3 separate regions of the Homo sapiens genome follow, and all the other regions are linked to region 3. The links come from fine-mapping of genetic effects on gene expression. A gene starts in region 3. Each other region holds a variant in brackets. All regions are shown on one strand. Distances are between the middles of the regions.

The links. PIP is the estimated chance that this variant, and not a neighbour inherited with it, causes the effect.
Region 1: its variant is the best candidate, but not a certain one, in a credible set for the expression of RNFT1 in whole blood (INTERVAL, PIP 0.88).
Region 2: its variant is the best candidate, but not a certain one, in a credible set for the expression of RNFT1 in monocytes after LPS (Quach 2016, PIP 0.69).

The regions. Positions count from the first base shown.
Region 1 is chr17:59,916,018-59,924,198 of GRCh38, reverse strand. The region is part of intron 4 of RPS6KB1 (ribosomal protein S6 kinase B1); the gene reads right to left. Among named protein-coding and RNA genes, the nearest start is that of RPS6KB1, 27 kb to the right of the region's middle. The variant G/A (reference allele first, on the strand shown) is at 4,033.
Region 2 is chr17:59,176,635-59,184,815 of GRCh38, reverse strand. The region is part of intron 2 of PRR11 (proline rich 11); the gene reads right to left. It also overlaps the pseudogene SPDYE22P. Among named protein-coding and RNA genes, the nearest start is that of PRR11, 25 kb to the right of the region's middle. RefSeq lists an enhancer at 1,937-2,438. The variant C/AAAAAAAAAC (reference allele first, on the strand shown) is at 4,297.
Region 3 is chr17:59,960,425-59,968,605 of GRCh38, reverse strand. It overlaps RNFT1 (ring finger protein, transmembrane 1), which reads left to right and starts at 3,866. Exons shown (of 9, transcript NM_016125.4): 1 at 3,866-3,998; 2 at 5,322-5,779; 3 at 5,990-6,066. The coding sequence starts at 3,943. RNFT1-DT (RNFT1 divergent transcript) reads right to left here and starts at 3,510. Exons shown (of 4, transcript NR_110815.1): 1 at 3,418-3,510; 2 at 2,139-2,203. It also overlaps the pseudogene TBC1D3P1-DHX40P1. RefSeq lists an enhancer at 3,496-3,765 and a silencer at 3,796-3,925.

The DNA.
Region 1 (8,181 bases), 44 kb after region 3:
TGCCACCACACCTGGCTAATTTTTGTATTTTTAGTAGAGATGGGGTTTCACCATGCTGGCCAGGCTGGTTTCGAACTGAGCTCATGATCCGCCCGCCTTGGCCTCCCAAAGTGCTGGGATTACAGGTGTGAGCCACTGCACCCAGCGAGAAAAAGATATTTAAGTAATTTTAGACTGCACACCCTTAGTGGCCTATATGTAAGCACACAAAAAATTGCAAAGAAATATTAAATCAAACTTAGTAGGTTTGTAGCTGGAAATACTATTGGTATTACAATTTTCATTATGCACATATTGTACAACTGAACAAATGAGTGCGTTTATGTTGTTACCAGAGTTCTTCTCACTGTAGAAAAAAAGGATATCCAAATATGAACTGAAAGAAGAATGTGGTCGGGCACGGTGGCTAACACCTGTAATTCCAGCACTTTGGGAGGCCGAGGCAGGTAGATCACAAGGTCAGGAGTTCAAGACCAGCCTGGCCAAGATGATGAAACCCCGTCTCTACTAAAAATACAAAAATTAGCCGGGCGTGGTGGCAGGCACCTGTAATCCCAGCTACTCAGGAGGCGGAGGCAGAAAACTGCTTGAACGCAGGAGGTGGAGGCTGCAGTGAGCCGAGATCACACCACTGCATTCCAGCCTGGGGGACAAAGCGAGACTCCATCTCAAAAATAAAAAAATAAAAATAAAAAAGAACGCTATGGAATTGGACTAGAATTAGGGCTAACAATATGAAGCACTTTGGGAAACCGAGGCAGGCGGATCACCATGTTGGCCAGGAGTTTGAGACCAGCCTGCCCCACATGGAGAAACCTCATCTCTACTAAAAATACAAGAATTAGCCACGTGTGATAGTACACACCTATACTCCCGTTACTCCAGAGGCTGAGGCACGAGAATGACTGGAACCTGGGAGGCAGAGGTTGCAGTGAGCTGAGGCAGCCTGGTGTCCAAGGGTGTGGTGAGCCATGATCATGCCACTGCACTCAAGCCTGGGCAACAGAGGAAGAACCTGTCTCACAAAAAAAAAAAAAGACCAGGTGCGGTGGCTCATGCCTGTCATCCCAGCACTTTGGGAGGCTGAGGCGGGCAGATCATGAGGTCAGGAGTTCAAGACCAGCCTGGCCAACATAGTGAAACCCCATCTCTACTAAAAATACAAAAATCAGCTGGGTATGGTGGCACGCACCTATCCCAGCGACTCAGGAGGCTGAGGCAGGAGAATTGCTCGAACCTGGGAGATGGAGGTTGCAGTGAGCCAAGACCACATCGTTGCACTCCAGCCTGGGCACCAGAGTGAACCTCCATCTCAAAAAAAAAAAACAAACAAATTTTTTTAAAAGAGAGTATAGGGCCAGGCGCAGTGGCTCACGTCTGTAATCCTGGCACTTTGGGAGGCCAAGGTGGCTAGATCACGGGGTCAAGAGATCGAGACCATCCTGGCCAACATGGTGAAACCCCATCTCTACTAAAAATACAAAAAATTAGCTGGGCGCGATGGCGCACGCCTGTAGTCTCAGCTACTCTGGAGGCTGAGGCAGGAGGATAGTTTGAACCCGGGAGGCAGAAGCTGCAGTGAGCTGAGATCACACCACTGCACTCCAGCCTGACTTCATCTCAAAAAAAAAAAAAAAAAAAAAAAAAGGAGTATAAAAAAATCTTTACAGACTAATGACAATATAGAAAAAATACAGAAAAAATAGAAAAGTCTCCATTTTATAATCACTACAGTACAGTAATATTTGGGCAAGAAACAATCCAGATAAAACCATTAAGTAAAGATTATTATAGGACAGAATATTCACACCGTTTCTATCATTCCACAGATCACTTGTTAACTACAAAAGGAAAAAGAGGCCGGGAACGGAGGCTCAAGTCTGTAATCTCAACACTTTGGGAGGCCGAGGAGAGCGGCTCACCTGAGGTCAGGAGTTTGAGACCAGCCTGGCCAACATGGTGAAACCTCGTCTCTACTACAATTACAAAAATTAGGCAGGCGTGGTAGGAGGCACCTGTAATCCCAGCTACTTGTGGGGCTGAGGCAGGAGAATCGCTTGAACCCAGGAGGTGGAGGTTGCAGTGAGCCAAAATTGCACCACTGCACTCCAGCCTGGGCAACAGAGTGAGACTGCTTCTCAAAAAAAAAAAAAAAAAATGCCCTTATTCTTAGGAGATGTATAGATGAAATTAGGGGTGAAGTGCTATGAAATCTGCAGTTAACTCTCAAATTGTACATGAGGAAAATTTATTAACTAAAATTTATTAACTAAAGGGCTTAGGGCCAAAAAACAGGCATTGTAGGAATCAAGTAAGTCAAAAGTGAGAAAGTTATTGTTCTATGAAACCGCAATATTTCAGAGGTGGAGAACACCTTTGGCCAAAGGTTCTAAAATGTACAGTGGGAGGTGAACTAATGCCGTAGGCAATAGTATTTTGCTTCCATGGTATATTTTTGCTGCAACTGGTAGGGTCGGGTGATGGCTGTTGATAGTCTTTTCCTCACTATTCCACTCTAAGCAAATACCTGAATGGTACCATTCCTATAAGAAGTAAACAGTCCCAGGAGAACTAATAAATCCAGACAGAATGTCCAGATTGAAACAACTCACTTAAGGGGATACCTGGTTCTACTCTGATTTCATCTTAAAGTCTGGGGGAAGAGGTATACACTTACCACACACTCAGGTCAGAGGGGTTAGTACTCTGCCTCCAGGATAATTAAAATCAGAAGGAAGGAACTCAAAGGGAGCCTATAGTCATCTTACTTGGGGATTTAGAAATGAAAGCCCTGAACTTAACCCTAATGACATCTTTATTTTCATTATTTTTGCTATGAGCTTGCTTTCAAGGACAAGGAAGGAGACAGTATCAGATCCTCTAGCCAGGATTAAGAAAAGAACCCCAAGAATGGGAAACAATGGCAACCAAGCAAAAGCAGAGGCAAACAGCTTAGGTCCTGGATCCCTGGGCCCCAGAATGAGGCCTGACACTTAGCAGTAATTAAGTCTATGGATTTCCCAATATACCACCCCACCCACCATGAGTGGGGAAAAAAAACAAGCACTCTTTTTTTCACTAGATACCTGTGCCAAAAACATACTTCACCCAAGATCTAATTATGCCTAATATGGTCAGGCCTGATTATCCGACATAAATAACACATCACAAGGAATGAATCAGTTAAGAATCTTGACCAGAGGCTGGGCGCAGTGGCTCACGCCCATAATTCCAGCACTTTAGGGGGCTGAGGTGGGCGGTCACTTGAGGTCAGGAGTTTGAGACCAGCCTGGCCAACATGGTGAAACCCTGTCTCTACCAAAAGTACAAAAATTAGCCAGGCGTGGTGGTACACACCTGTAGTCCCAGCTATTTGGGAGGCTGAGGCCCTAGAATCACTGGAACCCAAGAGGCAAAGGTTGCAGTGAGCTGAGAACGCTCCACTGCACTCCAGCCTGGGTGATGTAGTGAGACTCTGTTTCAAATAAAAGAAGAAATCTTGACCAGTACTTCTTTTCACATTTCTGGGACAAGCACTATTATGCTGCCTTCAATTCTATACCTAACATGTTTTACAGATTAAAAAATCATTAATCTAAAACAATTCCAACAGGAAAGTCAAATAGCTGATATCAATGTCAACCCACTGAAGAAGAAACTGATGTGAAGAATAGCTAGATGGCTTTTTAAAGACAATTACCAATAAAATTGTGGTCACAGTATTTGTTCCTCAGCTTTCAAACTGAGGAGTCATTTATACTGCTTAAATAAAAATCAGCAAGAAGGACCAAAGTTTTACAAGTCTTATAATTTTTTTAAAAAGTCACTTTGATTGTCTTTAAAGTAGTTCTCCACTGGAACTTTTGTTTTAAGACAGTGGAGGCCGGGCGCAGTGACTCATGCCTGTAATCCTAGCACTTTGGGAGGCCAAGAAGGGTGGATCACCTGCGGTCAGGAGTTCGAGACCAGCCTGGCCAACATGGCAAAGCCCTGTCTCTACTAAAAATACAAAAATTAGCTGGGTGTGGTGGC[G/A]GGCACCTGTAATCCCAGCTACTCAGGAGGTTGAGGCAGAAGAATCACTTGAACCCAGGAAAAAAAAAAAAGACAGTGGAATCTTTTCAGTAATCAATCCCAAACAAGAATAAGAAAACAAACACACACATAATCCATCAGTAAAACTAGAAGACATGTGGAATCCCACACCTGAAAAGACAGAGTGGGGATAAAGCAATGGTCCATGATGTAGCAGAGTGGGGTAAGATCAAACCTAAGTGCCTGCAAAGGGGAATACACAAAAGAAGTTGAATCTATCTATAGAACCCCAGCAAGGTTCAAACATTAGAGGAAAAATTAGAAGGAAGGGAAAAAATTAAAGGAACTGAAGACTGTAGAAGGCAGAAGGTGGAGTGCTAAAAACAGGGAGATCATCTACAAGTCTGTGTAAGGAACAGACAGACCAAAAAGGCTCCCATCTCCATACTAAGTCGAAGAACTAACCCTAGGAGAGTTAAATTCCCCGGGACAAAAAAAAAAAGTGAAAGATTAGATCCACAGAGTAAAGTACTAATGTAAAAACTCGAGTTTAGTGAAAGTCCGCGTGTTGAGAGGTAAGATCTCCATCTTCTCTCACTCAGCTCCAGAATGCTTTTTCCAGGCAAATGAATGGCAGAACTTTCTTAGCACCAACTGATCCTCCCCAGAAAAAAAAAGATCTACAGACAATATTTACTTATTTATTTATTTGAGATGGAGTCTCGCTCTTGTTGTCCAAGCTAGAGCACAATGGTGCAATCTTGGCTCACTGCAACCTCCACCTCCCAGGCTCAAGCGATTCTCCTGCCTCAGCGCCCCCAAACCAGCTGGCCAGGCTGGTTTTGAACTCCTGACCTCAGGTGATCAACCTGCCTCAGCCTCCGAAAGTGCTGGGATTACAGGCGTGAGCCACCACACCCAGCCCTACAGACACTATTATTTGAAGTTGTTGATCAAGTGCCAGCTAACCACTTGACTACCCTGCAGAGAAGCTTACACACACAGAACTTCTGATCAGCTTTTCAGAGTTCTACTCTTAAATATGAATAATCAGGCCAGGCGCAGTGGATGGGTTATTGAGGCCTAGGTGGACAGATCACTTGAGGTCAGGAGTTCGAGATCAGGCTGACAACATGGCGAAACCCTGTCACTACTAAAAATGCAAAAATTAGCCAGGCAGGGTGGCACATGCCTGTTATCCCAGCTACTTGGGTGGCTGAGGCACAAGAATCGCTTGAACCCAGGAGGTGGAAATTGCAGTGAGCCGAGACTGTGCCACTGCACTCCAGCCTAGACGACAGAGCAAGACTCCAACTCAAAAAAAAAAAAAAAAAAAAGAATAATCAGTGAATGACACCAGACATCTAAAGAAGGCCTCTAACATGGAACAAAGTGACTAAAACTGACTAAATCAAAGTCAAAGAAAACAGAAAGTCAAAAAAGAACATGCGTAAAACAAAAGAACATTTCAAATAATTATAATTAAACTCTCAGAGAGGCTGGGCGTGGTGGCTCACACCTGTAATCCCAGCACTTTGGGATGCCGAGGTGGACGTTTTGCCTGAGGTCAGGAGTTCAAGACCAGTCTGGCCAACATGATGAAACCCGATATCTGCTAAAAATACAAAAATTAGCCAGGTGTGGTAGCGGGCACCTGTAATCCCAGCTACTCAGGAGGCTGAGGCAGGAGAATCGCTTGAACGCAGGAGGCAGGGGTTGCAGTGAGCCAAGATCGCACCACTGCACTCAAACCTGCACGACAGAGTGAGACTCTTGTCTCAAAAAAATAATAATAAACATTAAAAAAAAATAAAACTCTCAGAGGGGTAAGAGAAGATATTATACTCATTAAACAGGTTGCTATAAAACAAAAACAACAGAAAGAATTCTGGAGAATCACAAATACAACAGCTTTAAAAAAAAATTTAGTCAAATGGCTGGGCACAGTGGCTTACGCCTGTAATCCCAGCACTTCAGGAGGCCAAGGCGGGCGGATCACCTAAGTCAGGAGTTCGAAACCAGCCTGACCAACATGGAGGAACCCTGTCTCTTCTAAAAATACAAAATTAGCCGGGCATGGTGGCACATGCCTGTAATCCCAGCTACTCGGGAGGCTGAGGCAGGGGAATCGCTTGAACCCAGGAGGCGGAGGTTGCGGTGAGCCAAGATTGCGCCATTGCACTCCAGCCTGGGCAACAAGAGCAAAACTCCATCTCAAAAAAAAATTGAGTAGAAGAAAGTAAACAAGACAAAGAAATGGAAACGTGGAAAAGATAAGAAAAATTAGATGATCGGTCCAGGAGATCCAACATCCAACTAATTGCAATTCCAAGAAGAGAAAACAGTGGGAAGGAAATTACCAAATAAATCACATAAGAAAATTTCCTAGAACTGAAAGACTAAAGCTTTAAGATTAAAAGAATAAAAATAGGCTGGGCACAGTGGCACATGCCTGTAATCCCAACACTTTGGGAGCCAAAACAGAACAACTGCTTGAGGCCAGGAGTTCCAGGCCAGCCGGGGAAACACAGGAAGACCTTGTCTCTACGAAACATTTTAAAAATGAACTGGGCGTGGTGGCATGCATCTGCAGTCCTAGCTACTCAGAAGTTGTGGCAGGAGGATCGCTTGAGCCCAGGAGTTACAGGTTACAGTGAAGTATGATCACACCACCACACTCCAGCCTGGGAAACAGAGTGAGACCCTGTCTCTTAAAAATAAATAAATTAATTAATTTAATTAAATAGGCCGGGCGCAGTGGGCCATACCTGTAATCCAATCCCAGCACTTTGGGTGGCCGAGGCGGGTGGATCACTTGAGCCCAGGAGTTCAACACCAGCCTGGGCAACATGGTGAGTGCCCATCTCTACATTTTTTTTTATTAGCCAGGCCTGGTGGTGCGTGTCTGTGGTCCCAGCTACTCAGGAGACTGAGGTGGGAGGATAGCTTGAGCCCAGGAATTTGAGGTTGCACTGAGCTATAATTGTGTCACCGCACTCCTGTCTAGGTGACAGGGCGAGACCCTATCTCAAAAACTAACTAAATAAAAATAATAATCAAAGTCAAAGCAACACACATCACTATAAAAACTTAGATCAGAAATAAAGAGAAAATCTTAAATATTTCCACAGAAAAAATAGGCCATGTGTAAACGACTGGGAATCAGAATGCCAAAGCACTTCAACAGAAACTCTCAAGAATAGAAGAAAACTGAGCAAAATTCTAAGTGAAAATAATTTTCAACTCCAATAACATAAACAATCAAGTAAATAAAAATGTAAAGAAATTCTCAAATATGCAATATGGATATATTTTTATTATAAATGTATCTTTATATACCTTGTCTGAGGGAGCCACTAGTATAGTGTCACCAAAACAAGGACATAAACTAAGAAAAAGGGAAAAAATGAAGATATGGGATCCAGGAAACAAAAGATCCAACACTGAAGGAGCCAAGAGGATTCCAGGGTTGTGGTGAAGAAAGAGTCCAGTCATAACAGTTGTGACTAAAGAGCTACCACTCCAGATGGGAACAGGTGGATAGAAAGTTCCTAAGATATGCCTCTGGGAAATAAATGGAACTGATAGATTATCTTATAAGCCTGATCAAAGAACATTAGACTGAAAGGTGTTTTACAAAGTTGTTGGAAGACATCAGAGGACAATAGTAGATTCAAAGAAAGCAAAACAAAATGAGAGGATGAGGATAAAGGAGGGTGAAGTAAACAAGAAACAAATCCTTAACTCGCATAAAAGAAAGTTAATACTGCCAGGCTCGGTGGCTCACGCCTGTAATCCCAACACTTTGGGAGGTCAAGGCGGGCCGATCCCCCGAGGTCAGGAGTTCGACACCAGCATGCCAATATGGCGAAACCGCATCTCTACTAAAAATACAAAAATTAGCCGGGTGTGGTGGTGGGCGCCTGTAATCCCAGACACTCAGGAAGCTGAAGCAGAGGAATCGCTTTAACCTGGGAGGTGGAGGTTGCAGTGAGCTGAGATCACGCCACTGCACTCCAGCCTGGGCAACAGAGTGAGGCTCCGTCTAAAAAAAAAAATTGAAAACTGCTGAATTAAAAAGATAGCAGTTGGCTGGGCATGGTGGCTCATGCCTGTAATCCCAGCACTTTGGGAGGCCAAGGCGGGCAG
Region 2 (8,181 bases), 780 kb after region 3:
GAATATGCAAACCAGGTTTGAAGATGGGTTAAATCAGAGCTTTTCATTCCACAAAAGAGAACTTTTAATGGGGTCAGAACATTGATCTTCTAATATATGAAAGCCTGTTAACTAGGAGAGAGATAGCAAACTGTTTTGTCAGGACCCACCCAGCTCTGGCGGTTTAAAGCGTCATGAATGGAAATTTGAACTCCAGAAAAGCAGAGCTTCCTACCAATGGGACTTCCATAGCAATGGGATCTGCTTCCTCATTCAGTTTGGGCCTTTCCCATGAGCAAGAGACTCCTAGGAGAGCCACAGCCCATTAGGAAGCCATATGGGAACTCACTCACAGGTTCTTTGTTTATTTTTTTGAGACGGAGTTTTGCTCTTGTTGCCCAGGCTGGAGAGCAATGGTGCGATCTTGGCTCACGGCAACCTCCGCACCCCGAGTTCAAGTGATTCTCCAGTCCCCGCTCCTGAGTAGCTGGGATTACAGGCACCCGCCACCATGCCTGGCTAATTTTTTGTATTTTTAGTAGAGACGGGGTTTCACCATGTTGGCCAGGCTGGTCTCACACTCCTGACCTCAAGTGATCCACTTCCTTTGGCCTCCCAAAGTGCTGGGATTACAGGCGTGAGCCACTGAGCCCGGCCAGGAACTGACAGGTTTTTTGGATGGTCTCTGAATGTCATCCAACTCTTTTATTTTTTATCAAAAAAATTTTTTTTGACACAACGTCTTGCTGTGTTGCCTAGACTGGAGTGCGGTGGCAAGATCATAGCTCACTGCAGCTTCTAAGTCCTGGGCTCAAGCGATCTTCCTGTCGCATGAGTCTCCCAAGTAGTTGGAACAAGGTGCCAGCCACCACACCTGGCTAATTTGGTTTGGTTTTGTTTTTTTAGAGATGGGGTCATGCTATGTTGCCTACACTGGTCTTGAACTGCTGGCCTCAGGCAATCTTCCTCCCTTGGCCACCCAAAGTGCTGGGATTACAAACATGAGCCACTGTGCACAGCTGAGATTTTTCGACTTAGTCTTTTTGTACATGCGATATTTTATTCATAGAATCCATAAATGGTAGGGAAATTTCTGAGTTCAGAGCAATACATATGATACAAAACTTAATATATAGACTAGAGTTTCTTAGCCGAACTGGAGGGGCTGGCCTTAGGTAATCCATGGACTCCCTGAAACTGGGGACACCATTGGAAATATGAGTGAGCTCATGGGCAGTTTCCTATGATTTTCAGGCCTCAAAATGTCTCTTGGACTCAAAGATGCCTTACGGCAGAGGACACGTGTACCCCCAGTATAGAATCTCGGACAGTGAATGTCAGTAAACATTCGGCAGAAAAGCTCTGCCAAATTGAGTGCTCTGATGTGACTTTTTCATCAAGTCAATGTTCCTGGGATCTCTTGTATATGATAATCTCACACTTGTAAGGTTTCATAGTTTCTGCTTACCCTAGTTTTCTTTCCCACCCTCCCTCTCCCACCAGACTGGACTCTGAAATGGGCATGTACAGAGAAGAGGAGACCCCAAAATGCTTCAGGCTTTGAGTGGAGAAGACACAGCCTCTGCTGGGACAGGGAACAGATGGATGCGGAGACCCTGAAGATGCTTTTGGATGGTGGTCTGAGGTTGGGACAGTGGCAGGAGATACCATTCACCCAGGATCTCCAGGACAAGAGACCAGCCTGGCAGTTACATGTGTTTTTCTTCAAACTGGTTGCCAGGTTGGAATGACCAATGACATCAGAGATTCCAACCTTCCTGATTGGAAGGACTGGACTCCATGGGCATCTGGGAGCTCAAGTGGACAACTGCATCTTCTCAGAGCTGTTCTCCACTCCTGACTTCTCTCAGCCTCGAGAATTGATAACACACCTTCTGGGTCCTAGCAGAGTCCAGAAGAAGGCCTTGGATAGAACAGAGACTAGGTTCCGTGGGTTGGGATAGATTTTGGGAAAGATCATGACCAGCCATCAACCGCACCCCCAGGATGAGGAGCAGAGCCCCCAGCTGAGCACCTCAGGGTACCCCCTCCAGGAGGTGGTGGATGATGAAGTGTCGGGACCATCAGGTGAGGGGACTGGAGGAAGAAGAGGTGGGATAGGATTGACTAAGGTGAAGGAAGGGGGCCAGGTGCAGTGGCTCACACCTGTAACCCTAACACTTTGGGAGGCCGAGGCGGATGGATCACCTGAGGTCAGGAGTTCAAGACGAGCCTGGCCAACATGGTGAAACCCCATCTCTACTAAAAGTACAAAAATTAGCCAGGTGGTAGTGGTGCGCGCCTGTAATCCCAGCTATTTGGGAGGCTGAGACAGGAGAATCACTTGAGCCTGGGAGGAAGAGGTTGCAGTGAGCCAAGATTGTGCTACCGCACTCCAGTCTGGGTGAGAGAGTGAGACACTGTCTCAAAAAAAAAAAAAAAAAAAAGAAGGGTCAGAGGTCAGGAAGGAGAACCTGAGGAGGGTGTATGGGAAGAATGGAGAAATTCAGGCCAGGTGCAGTGGCTCACACCTGTAATCCCAGCACTTTGGGAGGCCAAGGCGGGCAGATCACTTGAGGCCAGGAGTTTGAGACCAGCCTGGTCAACATGGTGAAACCCCATCTCTACTAAAAGTACAAAATTGAGCTGGGCATTATGGCAGATACCTGTAATCCCAGCTACCTGAGAGGCTGAGGCATGAGAATAACTGGAATCCGGGAGACAGATGTTGCAGTGAACTGAGATTGCACCACTACACTCCAGCCCGGGCGACAAAGCAAGATTCTGTCTCGAAACAAAAAAAAAAAAAACCAATAACAAAAAAACAAGCAAAAAAGGAGGGACTCAGAGAGCCAGGGACCAGGGAAGGACATGAAGAAGTGTTCTGAGGACAGAGATACGGAAGAATGGGGAGGGGAAGGAGCGGCTCATGGGGTTGAGCAGAGGAGAAAGCCAGAAAGATGGCTTGGAGAAGCCAACAGTCTGCAAGGCTGGGGAGGATGGAGAGTGGTTTGGGGTTGGGGTCGGGGTCGGGGTCTAAGGTGATCAGTTGCAGAAGCATTACATGGTGGCCTGGTTTCTTTACTCAGCCCCTGGGGTAGATCCCAGCCTCCCATGTAGGTCCCTTTGCTGGAAAAGGAAGAGGGAGTGGTCGGACCAATCTGAGGAGTCATCGGAGGAGGCGCCAGAGAAGGAGCTCGCCCCTGAGCCTGAGGAGACCTGGGTGGCGGAGATGCTGTGTGGGCTCAAAATGAAGCTGAAGCTGAAGCAACGGCTAGTGTCATTCGTGCTCCCTGAGCACCATGAGGACTTCAACAGGCTGCTTGGTAGGAGGACACCCCAGAGAGCACCTCCAATCCTGTTCTTTTAAAAACGAGGAAAACTTTCAATAACCACACTTTTCCAATGGGAAAAATATGCCCCCAGTGGGTGAGCTCTCCATGCGGGAGGACTCAGAAGTGATCACTCATGAGGGACGCTTAGGAGATGATAGAGGATTAGGCTGGAGTTGATAAAGTTTGGCTCTCGGGATAAGAAAGCTTGGTTTTGGGCTGGGCGCTGTGGCTCACGTCTGTAATCCCAGCACTTTCGGAGGCCGAGGCGGGCGGATTACGAGGTCAGGAGATCGAGACCATCCTGGCTAACATGGTGAAACACAGTCTTTCTAAAAATATAAAAAATTAGCTGGGCGTGGTGGTGGGCGCCTGTAGTCCTAGCTACTTGGGAGGCTGAGGCAGCAGAATGGCGTGAACCCCGGAGGTGTTGCTTGCAGTGAGCTGAGATCGCGCCACTACACTCCAGCCTGGGTGACAGAGAGAGACTCTGTCTCAAAAAAACAAAAAAACAACAAAAAAAGAAAGTTTGGTTTCGGGACAGGTGCTGTGGCTGATGCCTGAGATCCCAGCACACTGGGAGGCTGAGGCAAGAGAATTGCTTGAACTCAGGACTTTGAGGCTGCAGTGAGCTATGACTGCACGACTGCACTCCAGCCTGCATGACAGAACAAAACCCTGTTTCAAAAGAAAACCAAAGGCCGGGCGCAGTAGCTCATGTCTGTAATCCCAGCACTTTGGGAGGCTGAGGCGGGTGGATCACCTGAGGTCAGTTGTTCGAGACCAGCCTGACCAATATAGTGAAACCTAGTCAATACTAAAAATACAAAACTTAGCCGGGTGTGGTGGCGCACGCCTGTATTCCCAGCTACTTGGGAGGCTGAGACAGGAGAATCTCTAGAACCCGGGAGGCAGAGGTTGCTTTGAGCCGAGATAGCACCACTGCACTCCAGTCTGAGAGACTGAGACCCTGTGGCAAAAAAAA[C/AAAAAAAAAC]AAAAAAAACAAAAAAAAAAAAACAAGGACGGGCCCAGAAGTCAGGAAGGAGCACCTGAGGAGGTGTGTGGGAAGAATGGAGGGACTGAGGCAGGGTGCAGTGGCTCACACCTGTAATCCCAGCACTTCGGGAGGCCAAGGCAGGCGGATCACTTGAGGCCAGGAGTTTGAGACCAGCCTGGCCAACATGGTGAAACCCCATCCCTACTAAAAGAACAAAAATGAGCTGGGCGTTATTACGGGCACCTGTAATCCCAGCTACTTGGGAGGCTGAGGCAGGAGAATCACTGGAACCTGGGAGACGGAGATTGCAGTGAGCCGAGATTGCACTACTACACTCCAGCCTGGGCGACAAAGCAAGACTCTGTGTCAAAAAAAAAAAAAAAAAAAAAGGAGAGACTCAGAGAACTAGGGATGAGGGAAGGAAATGAGGAAGTGTTCTGAGGACAGAGAGATGGAAGAATGGGGAGGGGAAGGAGCGGCTCATGGGGTTCAGCAAAGGAGAAAGACGGAAAGATGGCTTGGAGAAGCCAGCAGTCTGCGAGGCTGGGGAGGATGGAGAGTGGTTTGGCGTTTTGGGTCTGGCTCTAAGGAGTTCAATTGCAGAAGCATTATACAGTGGCCTGGTTTCTTTACTCAGCCCCTGGGGTAGATCCCAGCCCCCTGTGTGGGTCCCTTTGCTGGAAAAGGAAGAGGGAGTGGTCGGACGAATCTGAGGAGTCATCGGAGGAGGAGCCAGAGAAGGAGCTCGCCCCTGAGCCTGAGGAGACCTGGGTGGCGGAGACGCTGTGTGGGCTCAAGATGAAGCTGAAGCAATGGCGAGTGTCACCCGTGCTCCCTGAGCACCACGAGACTTTCAACAGGCTGCTTGGTAGGAGGACACCCCAGAGAGCACCTCCAATCCTGTTCTTTTAAAAAAGAGGAAACTTCCAATAACCACACTTTTCCAATGGGAAAAATATGCCCCCAGTGGGTGAGCTCTCCATGCGGGAGGACTCAGAAGTGATCACTCATGAGGGACACTTAGGAGATGATAGAAGATTAGGATTAGGTTGGCAATTGGGATAAGAAAGCTTGGTTTTGGGCCAAGTGCGGTGGCTCACGTCTGAGATCCCAGCATGTTGGCAGGCTGAGTTAAGAGGATTGCTTGAACTCAGGACTTTGAGGCTGCAGTGAGCTATGATGGCACCACTGCACTCCAGCCGGGGTGACAGAGCAAAACTCTGTCTCAAAAGAAAAAGCACAGTAGCTCAAACCTGTAATCCCAGCACTTTGGGAGGCCGAGGCAGGTCAGGAGTTAGAGACCAGCCTGACCAACATAGTAAAATCTGATCTCTACTAAAAATACAAAAATTAGCCAGGCGTGGTAGCACACGCCTGTAATCCCAGCTACTCAGGGGACTGAGACAGGAGAATCGCTTGAACTCGGGAGGCCGAGGTTGCAGTGAGCTGAGATCATGCCACTGCATTCCAGCCCGGCCCACAGAGCGAGACTCCATCTCAATAAATAAATAAATAAATCAATAAATCACAATAAAAAATCAAAGAAAGCGGCTTCAGCTGTGCCCTCTGAAACTTAATGTCTCTTGCTGACTTTTCTAAACCTAAGTGTCTCCATCCATAGAGGGGGATACCTAGGCCATAGTCACACCCTGATGTGACTGTCTCATGAGGAAATGATGGGAATTCCTTTATGACTCTGCAGTGGTCCCTCTGTGTCTGCTGGGAGGGCATTCTGGCTTTTTGCCAGCTCTACATCCTGTAGATTCTCACACCCAGGGCCTCCTTCAGCCTCTTCTCAGGGGAGTCTCAGAGCGGGAGCCTCTCTCCCTTGCCCAGTGAAAGTCATTCTCCTCTTTCCCATCCACCTCACCTGTGGCAGCAATCCTGAGACTTCCCCCTGGGAGACACACTTCTCCTTGCTGCCCTGCTGCTCCCACGGAAACCCTGTCCTGCTTTTCAAGCTGACATCTACTCTCTAATCACAGAGGATCCTGTCATTAAAAGCTTCCTCGCCTGGGACAAAGATTTGAGGTTGTCAGACAAGGTAAGTTTGTTCTCCACGGAACCGTGTTCCTGCTTCAGTGCACTGCCAGGGGGAGGGTGCAGCTTCTAAACCCACAGTTCCTCTCTTCTCTCCCTCCAGCACTTCCCACCAGATGCTCCCACAGTCTTCTTTTCTTTTTGTGAGACAGTCTCGCTCTGTTGCCCAGGCTGGAGGGCAGTGTCTCAACCTTGGCTCACTGCAGCTGAAGCCTCCTGGGTTCAAGGCATTCTCCTGCCTCAGCCTCCCAAGCAGCTGGGATTACAGGCATGCACCACCATGGCTGGCTAATTTTTGTGTTTTTAGTAGAGATGGGGTTTTGCCATGTTGACCTGGCTGGTCTTGAACACCTGACCTCAGGTGTTCCGCTTGCCTTGGCCTCCCAAAATGCTGGGATTACAGATGTGAGCCACTGTGCCCCTCTGGCTCCCACAGTCTTGAGTCTTGGTGCCCACCTGTTTTTTTTTTTTTTTCGAGACAGTATCTAGCTGTGTTCCACAGGATGGAGTGCAGTGGCATGATCACAGCTCACCACAGCCTCTAATTCCTGGGCTCTTGCAATCCTGCCTCAGCCTCCTGAGCAGTTGGGAGTACAGGCACATGCCATCATGCTCGAATAATTTTTATACAAACAGTCTTGCTATGTTGCCCAGGTTGTTCTAGAACTGTTGGACTCACTTGATCCTCCTGTCTCAGCCTCTCAAACTTCTGGGATCACAGGCTTGAGCTGCCACTCCCGGCTATTCTTGGTCTTTTTATTATTTGTCAGCATCTCCCTCAGGACTCTGCTGGTCTCTTGCTGAGTGAATGAGTGGCCCCTGCCTCTCCTATGGGTCATTTGGGATCTGAGCTCTGGGCCACAGTCAGGCCGCAGCCCTGAAGCTCCTAGCCCCTTTACTCTCAGTTCTTTGGGACAGTTCTCTGCCTGGCACACAAAAGACCCTCCTGATACCAGCCGACCTAGACACACTCCTTCAAAGATCTCATCAGAGCCCACCATCCTGGGAGCATCACCAACATGCCTTCCTCCAGCTTCTCGGATTTGCATCCGACCTTCAAATACCCCACCACCCCGCAATTTCCACATGAGCACAGTCACCCCAACACTCAGGTCCCTTCTCTGATGGGCAAACCCTCCCTAGACCCCCATTCCACTGTCTCCACGATCTTCCTCTCCCAAGATGTGACCTCTCCCTTTCTGTGTTCCTTTCTCTCCACCAGTATCTCCTGGCTATGGTCATAGCATATTTTAGCCGCGCCGGCCTCTTCTCCCGGCAATACCAATGCATTCATTTATTCCTGGCTCTGTGAGTGGTTTGCTTCCTCCTATCTGTCAATATCCAATACCCTGGGACAGCGGGGGAAGTGGGATTCCAGCCTTTCATTTATTCTTGCACCTATTTGTCCTCTTTACTCTGTGTACAAAAAAGAGGATTATACTATCTTGTTTTTAGACTGCTGTTTCTAAAAAGAAACTCAGGCTGGGCGCGGTGGCTCACGCCTATAATCCCAGCACTTCGGGAGGCCGAGGCAAGCAGATCACTTGAGGTCAGGAGTTTGAGACCAGCCTGACTAACATGGCAAAACCCCATCTCTACTAAAAATAGAAAAATTAGCCAGGCATGGTGGTGTGCACCTGTAATCCAAACTACTCGGGAGGCTCAGGCAAGAGAACCCGTTGAACCCAGGAGGCAGACATTGCAGTAAGCTAAGTTTGAGCCACTGCATTCCAGCCTGGGCAACAGAGCGAGACTTTTTCTCAAAAAAAAAAAAAAAAAAAAAAAAAAAAAAGCCAAAAAAACCAAATTCCAACGCCAGTGTACAAATAAAAGAATAAAACA
Region 3 (8,181 bases):
TTGCTATTGTCCCAAGGATCAAAGCAAATCACTTAAATCAGTCTGCGAGGAGACTACCCAAGCATATGGACATTGGTAGGTGTGAAAAATTTGTGTGGGTAGTAGAGGGGGTGACGAGCTTAACTGCAACAATCTAGGACACTTAACCCTACTGATTCTATTTCATAACCTCTCCAATCTCATTCTTCTTCTTGAATCCCACTTCACTGACAAGTTCAAGACCTCATCTTGTTCCTGAACTACTTATAATAGTCTCCTAATGGAGCTTGCACTGCTACTATCAGCATATGAATTTTCTGAAAAACACAAATCCAGTCACACAATTCTGTTGCTTAAAACTCAATAGCTTCCTTTTGGCCATTAGAATAAACTAAGTGAGGCCCACAAACTCATTTTCTAGCTCATACTTACCTGACTTATCTCTTACTACTCTATCCACTCTACTCTTCCAAATACGAAAAACACTCTTTAAAAGACCATGGTATTTCAATACCACCATTTTCCATATAATGTTTCTATCTGCATTGCCCTGTTACTGCTTCTGTCCTGGTAAATATCAACTTATTCTTAAGATTTCATCCAGGAGGCTGAGGCACTAGAATCACTTGAACCCAGGAGGCAGAGGTTGCAGTGAGCCAAGATTGCGCCACTGTACTCCACCCTGGGCAACAGAGCAAAACTCTATCAAAAGAAGAAAGAAAAAAAAAGATTTCATCTTAAATATCACAAATTTAATAAAAGATTTCTTCCCTGACAAAGTTAAATGCTTCTACCTTTTGCTTCCATTGCATCTCACAGAACCTTCAATTATAGTGTTTTCTCCAAAATACTGTAATTATTTGTTTGCAGGTCTAAACATTTCCATCACCATGAGATGGCAACTTTTCTTTTTCTTTTTTTTCTGAGATGGAGTCTTGCTCTGTTGCCCAGGATGGAGTGCAGTGGCATGATATTGGCTCACTGCAACCTCTGCCTCAGGTTGAAGCAATTCTCCTGCCTCAGCCTCCTGAGTAACTGCATTACAGGCGCGTGCCACCATACCTCGATAATTTTTGTATTTTTAGTAGAGACGGGGTTCCACCATGTTGGCCAGCCTGGTCTTGAACTCCTGACCTCAGGTGATCCGCCTGCCTCACCCTCCCAAAGTGCTGGGATTACAGGCGTGAGCCATTGTGCTTGGCCCTAATTTTTATGTTTTTAGCAGAAATGGAGTTTCACCATGTTGGCCAGGTTGGTCTTGAACTGCTGACCTCAAGTGATCTACCTGCTGTGGCCTCCCAAAGTGCTGAGATTACAGGTGTGAGCCATCATGCCTGGCCCGAGACTCTTTATTATGTCTCTCTCTCCAACATCTAGTATTATTCTTAACACTCAGTAAGTACTTGGAAAATGCTTTTTGAATTAACCAATTAAAATTAAAATGTCTATTTCCAACAGTCCAGATGCCAGTGGAAAGAAAATTTATCAGATAATAGCCTGTCACCAAGTCAAATCTTCTCATCAATTCAGTCCTTTCTTTCTTCAAATATGTCACTTTTCAGTCAAGTTACTTGGGTGAAATGCAGCTCCAAGTGCACTAATAAACTTTAAATATGGACTAATATACCTGCAGTGTTATGAGTATGTCAAAAGGAGAATTTTTTTTTTTTTTTTTTTGAGACAGGGTCTCACTCTGTTCCCAGACTGGAGCAATAACGGCTCATTGCAGCCTTAATCTCCCTGGCTCAAGGGATTCTCCCACCTCAGCCTCCTGAGTAGCTGGGACTACAGGCCCTTGCCACAGTGCCCAGCTAATTTTAACATTTTTTTCTAGAGACAGGGTCTCTCTATGTTGTCCAGTCTGCTCTCGATCTCTTGGGCTCAAGCGACCTTTTCACCTCAGCCTCCCAAAGTGCTAGGATTATAGGAATGAACCGTAGTATCTGGCCAAGATGAGAATTTAAACACTACATTTGGTATTCTAAATTTACAAATGTACCAAATGTACTAAAATTATCAGTGTACTAATACATATTGGTGCTGCATTGTGGCTGTGGCTGAATTATGTTATATTCTGTTTTTTTTCCTGTTTCCTAAATGTTCACACATTTTGAAGTTTAAAAATATCCACGACATAGTTGAAATGTTAGAATACTTACACATATCTCCTCGGAAAATTCACTATAGTCTGGAGCCTGGCTCTCACCCTTACTGAACCAGAAATCTGTCAGAAAGATTTAAATTAGTAAGCACAGAGAGACTTAAGTATGCCTTCTACCACCGCCGACCACCCCTACCCCCACCCCCAACAAAAAAAGAAAGCCAATGTGTTTTTTTTTGAGGTGGGGGTCTCCTTCTGCCGCCCAGGCTGGAGTGCAGTGGCACGATTTCAGCTCACTGCAACCTCCGCCACCTGGGTTCAAGGGATTCTCCTGCCTCAGCCTCCCGAGTAGCTGGGATTACAGGCGCCCGCCACCAAGCCCGGGTGATTTTTGTATTTTTAGTAGAGACAGGGTTTCGCCATGTTGGCCAGGCTGGTCTCAAACTCCTGACCTCAAGTGATCCTCCCGCCTCGGCCTTCCAAAGCGCTGGGATTACAGGGGTGAGCCACCACGCCAGGCCTAAACCTTTTTTTTTTTAGACGGAGTGTCGCTCTGTTGCCAGGCTGGAGTGCAGTGGCTAATCCCGGCTCACTGCAACCTCCGCCTCCCGGGTTCAAGCGATTCTCCTGCCTCAGCTTCCCGAGTAGCTGAGATTACAGGCACGCACCACCACACCCGGCTAATTTTTGTATTTTTAGTAGAGACGGGGTTTCACCATATTGGCCAGGATGTGGCCACGATCTCTTGACCTTGTGATCCACCCGCCTTGGCCTCCCAAAGTGCTGGGATTACAGGTGTGAGCTACCACTCCCCTCCTCAGCTTCGTTTTCTTAATGACCTTTTAATTTTAGAACAGTTTTAGATTAACAGAATTTATTTTATTTATTTATTTTTTGAGACCGAGTCTCACTCACTCTGTTGCCCAGGCTGGAGTGCAGTGGCACGATCTTGGCTCACTACAAACTCCACCTCCCGGGTTCAAGTGATTCTCGTATGCCTCAGCTTCCCGAGTATCTGTAGCGGGGATTACAAGTGTGAGCCAACGCCCCCGGCTAATTTTTGTAGTTTTAATAGAGACGGGTTTCACCATGTTGGCCAGGCTGGTCTCTACCTCCTGAGCTCAAGTGACCCGCCCGCCTCGGCCTCCCAAAATACTGGGATTACAGGTGTGAGCCACTGCGCCCGACCTAAACTTCGTTTTCTTAATAACCTTTTAATTTTAGAACAGTTTTAGATTAACATAATTATTTTGAGGGCAGTAGGGTCCTCTATACCCCACGCAAGACAGGTTTTTCAACTCTAACTTCTACTTCCACCCCACGCAGACTCTCCGCACCTCTCTCCTCTCATCTCGGGTTCTGACAAGGCCTGATCCTCACAGCCCAAATTCACGATTGTGAGGAAAGGTCAGCTCAGACCAAACGTCACCGCCCAGACAGACACAACTAGGTCAGGCGTCAAGCTCGCGGACATCCGAGCCCGGAAACCCTAACACTCCTCCAGGGGTAGGTTCTCCAAGCCTGAACATTTTTAACCTCAAAACGCCCAGGATCTCGGAGGCGTGTGGTGGATGCCACATAAATACATAACACATAACAACGACTTATTATTTAGCGCCAGGCCTGAAGGCCGTTCTCAGGCGCAGCTCGCTTGTTCTCGCTGCCAAAACACCCCGGCAGCCGTGAGCTCTCCACTCGGCGCGGTGCGGGGGCGGGGCTAGGAGGTGGAGCCGGGGCAGGGCGCGCGCGCGCGCGTGAGAACGTCCGGGGAGCGCGCGCGCCGCCGCCGTTGCCGCCGGGCTGAGAGAAGAGCTTGCGGGGTTTGCGGTTGATGGCCCCGACTGAAGGGCTGGAGGCGGTGTATGCCGCTGTTCTTGCTGTCGCTCCCGACACCTCCGTCCGCTTCTGGTCATGAGAGGTTAGGCCTGGGGGAAGCGGGCAGAGGAGGAGGCGGCGAGGGGCCGCGGCGCAGGGGGCTCTGGGGAGAATAGGCACTCGAGGCTCGGACGTGGGTGGAGAACTCTGCCCTCGGAGATTCCGGAAGAGTTGTGTTGAATTTTCTTCCCTTTTTTCTCCTCTTTCTTGTCTGTGCATGAAGGAAAGTGGGAGGGTTCTATGTTATTTATAGAAAAGACACTGAAAGCCTGCTGTCCAACGTCGCTCTTCAGTTTTGACGAAATAACACCCGTGGCGTCGGGGCCTCGGTGAAAGCCTTTAGTGAAAAGCACTGAAACCCAAACCGCCAGACACGGTGACTGCACCACTGTTCAGTCCTGGGAGTGAAATAGAATGACACAGAACATTCCCTGACGTTAACTCTAGCCTCCTCCTAGACAAACGGGAAAAGCACGGCAGTGTGGGATAGCCTCTGCGTTTTGTCAGCTGGGATTCCGACTCTGTTCTTCTGTTTCTAGGAGGTCCACACTGGATCATTTATTAGAGAGATCTTTCTCTGCTAGAGTCCTCTTTCCTCACACCCCTCCCTCCGTAATACACACACCACCGACGGTGGCATTTTATTGGGCGGACTGTGTAACTGCTTATTCAGACTAAAGAGTTACCTAGCAATTACGTGGTGACTCTCCAAAGTATCTATGCTTTAAATGTATTTAGGTAACATTCTTTTGCGCGGGGAGGTAATATTATTGGTGGCACCATTAATTATTGGAAACTTTATGAGCTTTGGGAAAGCTGCTTGAGCAGAAAATCTAATTTGTAGGTCACCTAAGTGCAGTGTTTATTATTAGTTACCTATGATGATAATAAGGCATTAAGATTTAATGTTGTTTTTTTTCCTAACATTTCCAACCATTAAAAAATACTGGCTCACTCTTCCTTATGAAACTTCTTTGATGTAGAATCTACATCAGAGATGAAACTGCACCATTTGGGAAAAGTAAATGTACCAGAGTACCCAGTGAGGACTGGTGCTCATTAACATCTGCTGGGTACCCATACTTCATGACTGTTTTGCGGATGCCTTCTGCCATTAGAGAACTGGAAGCATTTGCAGCTCAACTTTTTTTTTTTTGGTGCAAATGTTCCCTAAAAGATCATTTGTGTAGGGCAGCAGAGCCTTGGCATTAAGGGAGAAGGGAGGAGTCCAGTGATAAATAACCTGAAAATTCATCTGTTGTGATTATTTGCTACTCCTTTAGTGAATAAAGGATACCCAGTGAGGAATATACTGCTGGTATTTAACTGCCTGTTTACTTAGAATATCTTTTATTTGATTTTTTAGGAGACAGAGGCCTGAAGCAAAGACATCTGGGTCAGAGAAAAAGTATTTAAGGGCCATGCAAGCCAATCGTAGCCAACTGCACAGTCCTCCAGGAACTGGAAGCAGTGAGGATGCCTCAACCCCTCAGTGTGTCCACACAAGATTGACAGGAGAGGGTTCTTGCCCTCATTCTGGAGATGTTCATATCCAGATAAACTCCATACCTAAAGAATGTGCAGAAAATGCAAGCTCCAGAAATATAAGGTCAGGTGTCCATAGCTGTGCCCATGGATGTGTACACAGTCGCTTACGGGGTCACTCCCACAGTGAAGCAAGGCTGACTGATGATACTGCCGCAGAATCTGGAGATCATGGTAGTAGCTCCTTCTCAGAATTCCGCTATCTCTTCAAGTGGCTGCAAAAAAGTCTTCCATATATTTTGATTCTGAGCGTCAAACTTGTTATGCAGCATATAACAGGTAGGACATAATAAAACATTGACTTGTTTTCATTCCTAAATTCAGTTAATTTTCTTTCATTATTGGTAATCTACTTAATGCATCCAGTTACTTATTTTCTGTGAGCTTTTATTATTGTATATGTTTATTTTTAATTTGTGTCATTGTTAGCTTATATAATCCTCTTTGATTTTTTTTTCTTTCAATTAACTGGAACTTATTTTCTAACAGGAATTTCTCTTGGAATTGGGCTGCTAACAACTTTTATGTATGCAAACAAAAGCATTGTAAATCAGGTTTTTCTAAGAGTAAGTATAACAAGCAACTAAAAAATTATTAACTGTTTCTCTCCATAGATTTTAGAGAAATAATTTTGAGAGAAATAGGAAATAACTTGAAAGAAATAGGAAGTAATAGGATATATTGTAACATCCACGTTATGTTAAATTTGTTATCTAAATCCTGGAATAAATTATCTCTCCTAATGCTGAATTCCTTCACCTTACCTTCTTTGTAAGAAAAAAAAATTGGTTACTGTTAAAGTAGTAAAAAGGATTAAAAGAGTTAGAACACGGTATCTGATCTGATTTGGCAAGTCCCTTCATGTTGTATCAGTTACTTTGACCATAGTAAGTAAGACCATCATCATGAAAAACTTTTAGTGGCTGGGCATGGTGGCTCACACCTGTAATCCCAGCACTTTGGGAGGCCGAGGCGGGCAGATCATGAGGTCAGGAGATTGAGACCATCCTGGCTAACACGGTGAAACCCTGTCTCTACTAAAAATACAAAAAATTAGCTAGGTGTGGTGGCATGTGCCTGTATTCCCAGCTACTCGGGAGGCTGAGGCAGGAGAATCACTTGAACCTGGGAGGTGGAGGTTGCAGTGAGCTGAGATCGCACCACTGCACTCCAGCGTGGGCTACAGAACGAGACTCCATCTCAAAAAAAAAAAAAAAAAAAAAGACCTGGGCCAGGCACAGGGGCTCACGCCTGTCATCCCAACACTCTGGGAGGCCCAGGCAGGCAGATCACCTGAGGTCAGAAGTTTGAGACCAGCCTGGCCAATGTGGTGAAACCCCATGTCTACTAAAAACACAAAAATTAGCTGGGCGTGGTGGCGCTTGCCTGTAGTCCCAGCTACTTGGGAGGCTGAGGCAGGAGAATTGCTTGAACCCGGGAGGCAGAGGTTGCAGTGAGCCAAGATTGTGCCACTGCACTCCAGCCTGGCGACAGAGTGAGACTCCATCTCAAAAAAAAAAAGAGAGAAAATGAAACCCAAGGAATTTTTCCATAACATAAGTTACACGAGCCCGTCATATAAATCATTGGGAAAAAGAGGATGAGTTTCTAAAATTTCACCTTAAGGCAACTTTAAATGGCTATGTCTGTGTAAAGTATCATGCATTCTGACCTGGAAATTTATAGTTAAACCTATCAAACTAGAAAAATCTTAATGATTTAAAATTAGTAAAACTTCATTAAACTTGACTTTAAAAGTGAGATTACAGGCAAGGCACAGTGGCTCATGCCTGTAATCTCAGCACTTTGGGAGGCTGAGATGGGCAGATTGCTTGAGCCCAGGAATTGAAGACGAGCCTGGGCAACATGGCAAAACCCCATCTCTACAAAAAATACAAAAAATTAGCTGGGCGTGGTGGCACGTGCCTGTAATCTCTGCTATCTGGGAGGCTGAGGTGGGAGGATTGCCTGACCCCAGGTGGTTGGGGCTGCAGTGAGTTGTGATCATGCCACTGCACTCCAGTCTGGGTGAAAGAGTGAGACCCAGTCTCAAAAAAGTAAAAAAAAAAAAAGGGAGATTACAACTACTTGGGAGGCTGAGTTGGGAAGAATGCTTGAGCCTAGGAATTCTGAGCAATGTGTCGAGACCCCATATATTAAAAAAGTGAGATTAAAACATTAATTTATTAAATTCTTATAATCTGAGAATTTAAAAAATATAAACCTTGACAAGTGAGTCAAGGTTAAAATGCATTTTGAAATTTTCTTTTGTGGGTGGGTCCATTTTTTTTCTGAGACGGTGTTTTGCTCTGTCACCCGGGCTGGAGTGCAGTGGCGTGATCTTGGCTCACTGCAACCTCTGCCTCCTGGGTTCAAGTGATTCTCGTGCCTCAGCCTCCTGAGTAGCTGGGATTACAGGCACGTGCCACGGCGCCTGGCTAACTTTTGTACTTTTTTTAGTAGAGACAGGTTTCACCATGTTGGGCAGGCTGGTCACAAACTCCTGACCTCAAGCGATCCGCCGACCTTGGCCTCCCAAAGTGCTGGGATTACAAGTGTGAGCCACTGCCCCCGTCCTGGGTGGGTCCTTTATGTCAGCTTGTAGAAGACCTGGCTTCTTTTTTTTTTTTTTAATTTAATTTAATTTTCTTTTTTTTTTTTTTTTTTTGAGAGAAGACTTG